3 linked regions of the Homo sapiens genome follow. The protein of the gene in region 3 interacts with the protein of the main gene of each other region in a pairwise test. Each region holds a gene or a part of one and is shown on either strand. Other genes may lie near its edges. The genes, in order: C18orf54, MID2 and MAGOHB.

Region 1 (3,663 bases), on a different chromosome or scaffold from region 3:
GAAGCCTAAGCAAATTCTCAAAGTACAAAAGGTAGCCAAGTGAAATGGTGTGACTAGAGTAGAAACTTTTAATCTCAGTATTTCCTAAGTTCAGTATTCCATCTTCTGAGGACACTTCATAGTCACACAACAAACTCCAAAATAAATACCCTTCTCTTCTGTCAATATCATGACTATAGAAACAACTTGTATTTTTCTCCATTTTATTATTTAAGACACTGTAACTAAGAAAATTAGACCTATCTTTATATCCAGGTCATTATATCTACTTTAGATTTCTGTAATGATGTTCCAAATCACGATCCATTTATTATTAAATTTATTCTAGAGAGAATATATGAAAACACATTTCATACAAGTTACTGTTATAGGATACTCACAAAAATACTATCATAAATTGTTGCTATTACTACTCAAAAATGAGTCATATCCATTATATTTTAGAGGTCTAAGGCTATCTCATTAGGTCCTTAGAACACTTTGAATAGGAAAAAGCACAAGTTTAAAAGAAAACAATGTTTTTTAGTGTAAACAGTGTGCTCCAAGAAGCTTAAATATGCCTAGTAGTGCTACTCTTAAAACTACTTACTTCTACCCTGTAACTTTACATATGTCAAAGAAATGGCTAAGATGGATTTGTATCCATATTAGTAAAGAATACTTACTTCTGAAGTGACCTAGTAATAGGAATCATACTTTCCTTCAACTGTAATTTAGAGAAATCATCTTCTGAAACCTATTATTAAAAACACCAAATATAACAAAATATTAAAATTATATAACTACAAAATTAAATGGTATTGAAAATGTGATTAAAACATTAAAAAATATTTTCTACATTTCCAAACAATTCTAATTTTCAAGAGTATTAAATATTTTTATTTTCCATTTACTGTAAAAACACTACAACTAACAGCCATTTTTCAACTGTCCTAAAGTATACTTCTACACATATGTCCATTAAAAATCAAGTCTTCGCTTAAAATTATGACTTTATTGAACAGGCTTATATCTCAATGATGTTTAGAATGAGAGGGGAAAGAAAGATAGATTACATTCTACATATTAATGTTATGATTATTAGAATGTAAGGACAGAAATTAAGAAATACAACTCAAATGAGCAGACTATGAAGGTTCTCAAAAGCTGATCCACTCACTTGTAATGAAAACTCAATTTCACAGATCTACTGAATAACAATAAAACAATGAGCCATCATTTATTGAGCACTTACCATGTACCAAGCACTATACTAAGTACTTTATATAGTTTGTCTCAATTTGTCTTCTCAACAACCTCACTATACAGAAAAGGAAATTGATAAATGAAATAAGCCCAGCACAGAAAGACAGACACTGAATAATAATCTCACTTATATGTAGAATCTGGATGTGGGGACGGGAGTTGCAGAGATGTTTTTCAAAGGATACAACATTTTAGTTAGGCGAGAAGAATAAGGTCAAGAGATCTATTGTACAACATGGTGACTAAAATTAAAAACAACATATCGTATACTTGAAAATTACTAATGGAGCAGGTTTTACATGTTCTCCACAAAAAGTATGTGAGGTAATTAGCTCCCTTAGCCATTTCATGATGTTTCAAAACATCATGTTGTACACCCAAAATATATATATATTGTCAATTAAAAATCAATAATTTTTTAAATAGGAAACTGAAACTAAAGAGGTTAAATGATTTGCACAAATATTGCACTTGCTAGTAAGTGACAGAATTCACAATCATATTTGGGAAAATATAAACTCTATGTTCTTAAACACTATACTTTTGTGGGAAAAAATTCATCATATAGAATGGCAGCCTAAAACAGAAACAGATTTTCAAATTCCCGGGAAATACACAAATTGAAAAAATAAAATGGCTCTAAAATAAAACTTGATATAACTGTATTCATAACAGCCAATGAACACACAGTAACAAAATTAAATTTCAAAGGAGAAAGGTGTGTGAAGGAATCTAATGTTGAAAAAGTTTTCTAGGCCTCCTCGAATATAACTACCAGAAGATGGGCCACATAGATTAATTTTGTAGAGGATTACAAAACTCTTACAACCCTTTGATACTATAGTTGTAACACCATCATAACTAAATAAGATGTTGGATTTATAACCATAATAGAACAATCTGTTTAGAGATAAACACCTACAGAAATCAAACAGAATTAAACGTGAGTACATTACTTCCTAACAAAAAAAAACTACTGCCACTTACAACATGTGTAATGTGGCATGCTTACTAACATAAAACTATAAGTAGGTCTATTAAAAGATGTAGAAAAAAATCTTTATACAAATTCACAAATCTCAATTCATAAATCATGTTTGTGCTTACTTGTTTAATCTCTTCTTTTGGATCTGTGGTCTTATTTTGATTAAAACGTTCTTGTACTGCTTGAAGGTTAAATAACATTTGTTTCAGGGCTTCAACAGGACCATGATGTTTGCCTCCAGAGAGAGTACAGCTCTAAGGTTAAAACAGATGATAGTATAAAGTTAACCATCCAAGCTCAGGGAAAGAAGAGTTTTATTTTGTATTAATTTCCCCAATAGAAAATTAATGTAAAACTCCAAACAATGTATGTCAATAAAGTATTTTAAAAAATCAAAATTGTAACTCACCACTTCCCCATCCCCAGGCCCCAGGTGAAGTTACTTAAAGACAATCATGATTAACAGTTTGGCATATCCTTTCTAGTCATTGCTGTTTTGAAATAAATAGTGCACGTTTATATTTATGACAAATTAATTTCGCACATTTAAAATCACAAATTGTAAATGAAATGAAAGGTCTTCAGAGGACAGGTAAACCAACATGTTCTTTACAGCTGATCAAGGACTAAAATTTCAAATACAGTATTCTCTGCACACTTTAAAATATGTTTTTATAACAGAATGCTAGCTTTTCACCTCTTCATGGGCCATACATTCCTTCTACCTAAATAACACTCATAGCTCGATTACCCCTGGACTTATTTGTGTTCAAAGAACGCAGCAGTACTTAAGACACATAAGATGGTCAGGATTCTTTTAAGATAATCGGTGAGGGATATTTTAAAATTTCTTTTTAAAAGTCTTACCAGTCTATTATTTTACATCTTTCAAATGAGTTTCTGTGTCCTAACAGCTATCTACCAAGTAACAAATAGGACTGTACAGATGTCTGTAATTTAATATATTTCAGCATAGACTGTGCACCATAAGTACTACTTAAACTTCAATTCTATAGAAAGTTGTTGATTAGCATAATATACTCAAGGTAAGCAGTATGGTTAAAAAGATTTTAAAGACACTTCCACAGTTATAGAACAGGATATAAGAAATGGAGCGGAAAGGTAAAATGCTATAGCCATTGTAGAAAACAGTATAGGAATTCCACAAGAAATTAAACATAGAATTACTGAATGATCCTGCAATTTCCCTCTTAGGTATATATCCAAAAGAAGTGAAAACAGGGACTTGGGTAGATATTTGTATACCCATGTTCACAACAAAATTATTCACAACAGCCAAAAGATGCAGATAACCCAAGAGTCCAACAACAGATGAATGAATAAACAAAATGTGGTACATACATACAATGGAAAACTGTTCAATCTAAAAAGAAAAGGAAATTTTGACAAATGCTACAACATAGATGATCCTT
Region 2 (2,799 bases), on a different chromosome or scaffold from region 3:
TCTTTTCTCCTTTGAATTTTACTCCTTTTACCTTTGGGCTGTAGTTCTTATAGGCCCCTGGTCTGATGACCTGTTTCAAGTCACTTCTCTAGCTGCCGCCCTTGACTGCCCTGCTTCATTCACTTCATATCGCATGATCCCTTTTAGTCTTAGTGCCACTACAAATCTGATTAAGATATGCCCAATTCTAGCCCTGAGGGACCTCCTGGCTTCCTCCCAGTCTCCTCCTGCAGGCCAGCTGTTTTAACAGTAAGTCAGCTCACTTGCTTCTGGTGCTACCCTAATCTTAATCAATGGGTTCCAGCACTGGGATTTTATTTGTTCTTTAATTCTCAACTTCTGCTCCAATCTCTAAAACTGAATGTGTCATGTTTCCTTGAACCCTATATCTTCATTTCTTTGGTCTTCTTGACCATATCATGCTCCTGAAATCAAAGTCTTCTTGATTGGATTTTGAGCTCCAGACCCCCTGGGTCCTTTCTGTCCAGATCACTACCTATTATATGATCCTTGGTTTCCCCTAGTCACTTACCCAATTCCAGGAGAATCCACGGCCATCTTCCTTTTAGTCCTCCCCCAATTCAACTCCAGCGAGAGACAACAAAGAATTCATGAATACATATATATTTATTTAATTCATAATATAGCATTTTGGATGGGCTGGAATATTGTAGAGAGGGATGAGGCTGTGTAATCCACAGATGCTCATATTTCTGTCACTAGGAGAGACACTATTGGTCCAGAGCTCCCAATACAAACAGGCGTGGGGTAAAGCATTTGATAAAAAATAGTCCAACAATAGTCTAATAAATAGTCTAGCCAATAACAACAATACAGCATATGTCTGAAGCTGGCAGACTACACCATAAAAGGCAGTTTTGTCTGACCTGATGGCAATCAGTTTGGCCAACCTGTAACACACAGCCAAATACAGCCATTGGCTCCAAGGCTGCAGTTGGCTTCAGGAGCTAGAAATAAGTGTAGGAGTGGTTCTTACCTACCTGCCTGACACTCTCCATTCCTTGGAGGAAGCAGTATCAAATATTTGAGTTTATTCAAAAGTCCATCCGTGGATTGCTCCATCTTGGTAGTCATATATAAATATGTAAACCATGGAAGTTTAGAAAATTCACCTAGAGTGTTTTAGCCGAAAAGAACAGATAAGTGATTTTGCTGCAATCTGAATTTCACTGCATCTAAAGATACACATAGAATTGTATAATAAAAACACATCCAGATGCAGTTACTCTTACTTACAAGTAGCCAGAACCTCAATGTGGCATTAAAATTTCTTTCATACTCTCAAAACAGGTTTTACTTTATTTTTGATTATTTTTGTGCTTTCTTCAATAAGACAATATAAAAAGTGGAAACAAGCATAAATTGCAGACATAAAATAATCTTCTGGTAGAAACAGTTGTGGAGAACAGGTTGAGTAGAGCAACAACAACAAAAGCTTATGCAGTCACCTTCTTTGAAAATGTTAAATACAAGTCCTATTCTCTTTGTCCAGCTGGGTTTAGCTAGAGGTAGCCAATTACTTCTCTTAAGGTCCATGGCATTGCCAGGATTCTATAAAAGCCAAGTTAACTGAAGTAAATATCTGGGGCCCATCGCACCCCCACTAAGTACTTTGTCACCATGTTGTATCTTAGAAGTCATTTTTCACTGTTTGACTCAGAATTTGGGACTTCAGAGTCAAACTTCATTGCTTACTCCAAACCCAGTTTAATTCCCCACTTTTTTAAGTAGGCTTAGCTTTGAGTGATTTTTGGCTATAACCGAAATGTAAATCCACCTTCAAACAACAAAGTTTGACAAGACTGAAATGTTACTGAAAACAATGGTGCCATATGCTCCAAAGACATTTCCCCAAGATAACTGCCAAAGAGTTTTTGAGGAGGACAATGATCATTTATTATGTAGGAGCCTTGATATCTCTGCAAAATAGAATTAATACAGCTCAAATGGAGTAGTAACCAAGCTTTTCTGCCCAGGAAGTAACAAACATCACTACGAACATGAGAGTACAAGAGGAAACTTTCATAATGCATTTTTTCATTCATACATTCATTCAATAAACATTAGCCAAGCTAATGTTCCAAGCACTGTGCCAGGTATTAACAATATAACAACAATAAAAGACACAGTCCTTCCTCTCAAGGTGTTCAGTCTAGTAGGGAAGATGATTATTCATTAAAATTTTTGGTGCATCAGAATCATGAGGAGCTTGTCAAAAATGTAAATTCCTGCCTATGTTCTCAGATATTCTGGTTAGGTCAGGAGTGGGAACCCAAAATCAATTCTTTTAACAAACACTAAAGGTGATTCTAACACAGGCGGTGTGAGGACCACACTTTGAAAAACACTGCTATACAATGTGATTATTGCTGAGAGAGGGGGATGCTTGGGGTGTCTTTGGATCTCTAAAGAGGGATGCATCATCAAGTCTAAGGAATAAAGAGTTAGTCTGGTTGAGAGAGATAGAGGTGAGGAAAGGTAGTCCAGGATAGAGTCAAAAGTAGGGTGGGGAAATTAGATCTTTGTCCCAGGGCACTAAAATCTAAAAGACACCACAATAAATGAACAGTTTTGGAGAGCCAAGGACAAGGCAAAGGAAATTGTTCTACTGGAATGGAGGTTGCATTTTCTGTACTTACAGCATTTTCACACTATTCCTTTAATTTAAGAAAAATTTCTGTTGTTTACTCTGGGCATTAAAATTGTTAATCATGTTTCTGCTGCAGGCCCAGAGAATAACTTGTGTGAATAGTTGTGTAAATAGTTAAACTTGGCTAC
Region 3 (3,622 bases):
TTCCCGATGGCAATTTAAGAGAAAATAGTTAAGCTGATCTGTAATTAAGACTTCTGATTCTTAAATTAGTATTCTCTCCACCACATCACACAGTTCAAATTAGGACAAGGTAGATGCCAGAGATTTTGAGTGGTAGTTATCCAACTTTACTGATCATCATACGGAAGTCAGCCAAGGCAGATTCTGAACTCACCCTCAAATCCTTCATTTACCTTTGTTGTTTATTAAATTTTTAAAATTTTCTATTCGACTTCATTATCCATTCATGCTAGGAATCCAGTTATTAATTAAAGGGGTCAGTGGTTAAACTTACAGCACAGTCCATGCTCATAGGTTCACACATTTCAAATCAAAACGAAGTAGTCTAACAATAGAATATATAAATCATCTCAGTTACATTAATATTTACATTAAAAATATCCATACAAATAGACTCAGCCTGATACCAATGAAATACCAAAGATAAATAATCTAAAGGCAAATAATCTAAGGACAGAGCAAGACAGCAACCAATTCAACAAACTTAAAAAACACCTACTATATGGAAAAGACTGTGCTAGGGTTCTGCACTATCTCATGAATGGGGAAGAGGTGGGATGAGGTGCAGACAGTACTTGGAAAAAGTCTGATTATTTCAAGTGGTCTCTTTATTAAGGAAGGAGGTAAAAGGAACATAACCTGAGCGCAATAAAAATCTAGTTTCATATAAAACTAGTATTATACAAAATTCAGTTTCTAATGATCACTGTCCATCAGCAACTTACAATCAAATAAAAGACAGATCAAAGTATAAGAAAATTGTAGACGGTAATATTTTCCTAATGACCTAGTCTCCCATCTTGGTTTAAATATGAGAAATTCTAGTAGATAGTGGGGATAGAGCTAAATAAACGAAAACGTAAGGAAGTTAGAGAACGGGGACAAAGACTTAAAGATTTTTCAACGTAAGCACTATTTCTCCTCAACCTTGTTCAGTTTTTAATGGATCATCTTATTCAACAGGAGCCACAACCTGTTTTGAGGAACAACCAACAACTGTGGGCCTACTGGAAGTTCAAAAGACGATTGTTCCTGTTTCTGAGGTTGACATCTAAATGCAAGAAAATTACAATACGATTTCATACTGCACAATCATCAAGGTCTACAACTGGAACAGAAACATTTTACATACAAAAGACCTGAAGATGATAGCGTACTTGCATAATGAAGTGGAAATCATTTGACTTTCCATGGCAAACCTGAAGACAATGGGCATGCATTTTGAGGAGTGAAAAGGACCATCTAGTGCTCCATGGCAAACAGGTTACCAAGCCATGCTCTAGAGCTATACTGTCCAAACGGTAGCCGCTAGACACGTGGCTACCTAAATTTAATCAAAATTAAATAGCACTACAAAAAAAGTAGTTTATTGGCACCAATTACACCAGTTAAGTGAAAAACCAAGATTTATTATAATAGAGATATTACAGTAAAAAAGATGTTAAGTATAGAATCTAGGTAGGGGTAGGCATATAGGTGTTCACTTTATAGTTCTCAAGAGTTTTTAATGTTTTATCCTTTTCACGTTAGAAAAAAATTGTTTAAATAGCACCATAAATTCAGTTATACAAGGCACACCTCAAGTAATCAGTAGGCCTCATTTGGCCAGTTGCTACCCTATTGGACTGCACATAGAACGTTTCCATTATTGCAAAAAAGTTATTGGACTGCCCGACTCTAGAGCCTACCTGCTCAGGAGTCCTGGCAAGCCTTCAGAAACTAATTATTCCACCCAAAATTCAGTGCTAACTTGTTCCTAGGGCAAGTGGATTATAACTACTGGAACAGTGCAACTTTTTAAGAGTGGGGCTTCAGATGGAAGAATAAAAGGAAACAAGGAACATGGTTACTAAAAGTAATGAAAGAGGAAATCTATCAGAAAGAGGTTGAAAGGAACTGGGAAACTGAAGTGAGACTCGTGGTCAATAGGAGTTAAAAATATTTATGTACATTCATACATACATATATGTTTGTCTAAATGTTTAACAATTTATAAAGCTGAAAACTCATTTAGTTCTCCCCCCTCCCCTACACACCAAATACATTGTGAAATAAGGAATAAAGACATAATCAAAGATATGCCTAACATGGGGTAGACTGTACTCTTGTAACACTTTAGGACCTCACTGCTTATAACTGAAAATATTTAAATGTGAATAATCCCTGAGGGGTTTGTCATAACTGTAAAAAAAAACTAGACCTTGTATAAGCCCCCCAAAATTAAATCCAATCATGTATGAAGGAAATAAGGGACAATCTACACTTGCCTTTCATGGATGGGAATCTGGCTACATAGTTCCACCTAAAGTATCTTCTGTCACAGGATATATCTACCAGAACAATTTCTTATTATCTCTAAAGTGAATTAGAGACATAGCCTCCTGGAAAAAACAAAAAACTACTCTGCAACCAGGATTTGGTATGTTTTATTAGAGCAAATTTTTAACAAAAGGTGGCTTTCATTTACAGAATTTAATGTGTGTGGGGACTGTCCAACCCATATGGACTCAAGTAAGGATAACCATTAAGCTTGCTAATGTATTTTCTTATTTTCAGTTTACATACAAATTTTTTTTGTTTGCTTCACATTCATAAAAACCCCAATACTGTAAATGACAAATAACCCCTCCCATCCCTTAATTAAATATACAAACAGCCTGAAAACATACAATTTAAATTGGTTTAATCTTGAAGTGTAATCCAATAAGACTGAAAACTAAACATTTCAAGTCTTGTACCAAATAGTAAAATACTCGAAGGCCTTCAGGATCCCTAAAATTTAAAAAGGTAAAAGTTACTTTTTCTTCCTAGGATAAAACAATTCTTTAAATGCCTAAAACAAAACAAATCAAAATCTCATAACAATTAAGTTAACAAAATTTAGGAGAAAGGAAGGATTTTGCTGACAACTAAAATGAACATACAATTAATATCTTTTCTATACGAAAAAATAGTTTCTTCATCAGTATTCATTTTAGTATTTAAAGAGTTCATATCCTTATGATTGTAATAACCACATCATAAAAATGTCTAATAAAGCAGAAAAAAATAATACTGTAATGCTACCATTTCATAGAATAACTATAAACATTTTGATGTTTCTCTATTTTTTAATAACTAAAATTATTCCTTGTGCCCTTTTTTACATTACTTTCCCCACAGCATTAAAAAAAAAAAATTCCCTAGTAATTTTTAATTAATTTAATAATTCTCTCCTTGTTAGACACTGGGGTTAATTTCCTATTATAAATAATACTTCAATGAGCATCTTCATGCATAATAAAGCTTTTCCAATATTTAGGAATAGTTCCATAGAAGAGATGCTCAGAAATGAAATTACTAGGCCAAAGGTGAATGAAAAATGTCAACAGTTTTTGATGCATATTACCAAACTGCTTTCCAAAAACCATTACCAATTTATAATCCCAGTAGGGTATCAATGCCACACCCTTACCAAATGTAGGAAAAGAAATTTGATAGTTTAAAAGCATTTGGATGGTCTTTGTGAACACAGATTTTGCGTCCAATAGTTATCATGCATTCATTCCTTTCTCCTTTCCACTAACAAATATTTATTGAAAGC

Evidence for each region.
Region 1: the proteins of MAGOHB (region 3) and C18orf54 interact in binary tests that used the Homo sapiens proteins (3 or more experiments, as listed by UniProt).
Region 2: the proteins of MAGOHB (region 3) and MID2 interact in binary tests that used the Homo sapiens proteins (3 or more experiments, as listed by UniProt).

What each region holds. Positions count from the first base shown.
Region 1 is NC_000018.10:54,371,287-54,374,949, reverse strand, and holds part of C18orf54 (lung adenoma susceptibility protein 2), read right to left. Parts: intron 2,485-3,663; coding exon 2,353-2,484; intron 737-2,352; coding exon 666-736; intron 1-665. UniProt on the Homo sapiens protein: Might play a role in cell proliferation.
Region 2 is NC_000023.11:107,929,447-107,932,245, reverse strand, and holds the end of MID2 (probable E3 ubiquitin-protein ligase MID2), read right to left. Parts: 3' UTR 609-2,799; downstream 1-608. UniProt on the Homo sapiens protein: E3 ubiquitin ligase that plays a role in microtubule stabilization. Mediates the 'Lys-48'-linked polyubiquitination of LRRK2 to drive its localization to microtubules and its proteasomal degradation in neurons.
Region 3 is NC_000012.12:10,603,564-10,607,185, forward strand, and holds the end of MAGOHB (protein mago nashi homolog 2), read right to left. Parts: intron 2,812-3,622; coding exon 2,712-2,811; 3' UTR 630-2,711; downstream 1-629. UniProt on the Homo sapiens protein: Required for pre-mRNA splicing as component of the spliceosome. Plays a redundant role with MAGOH in the exon junction complex and in the nonsense-mediated decay (NMD) pathway.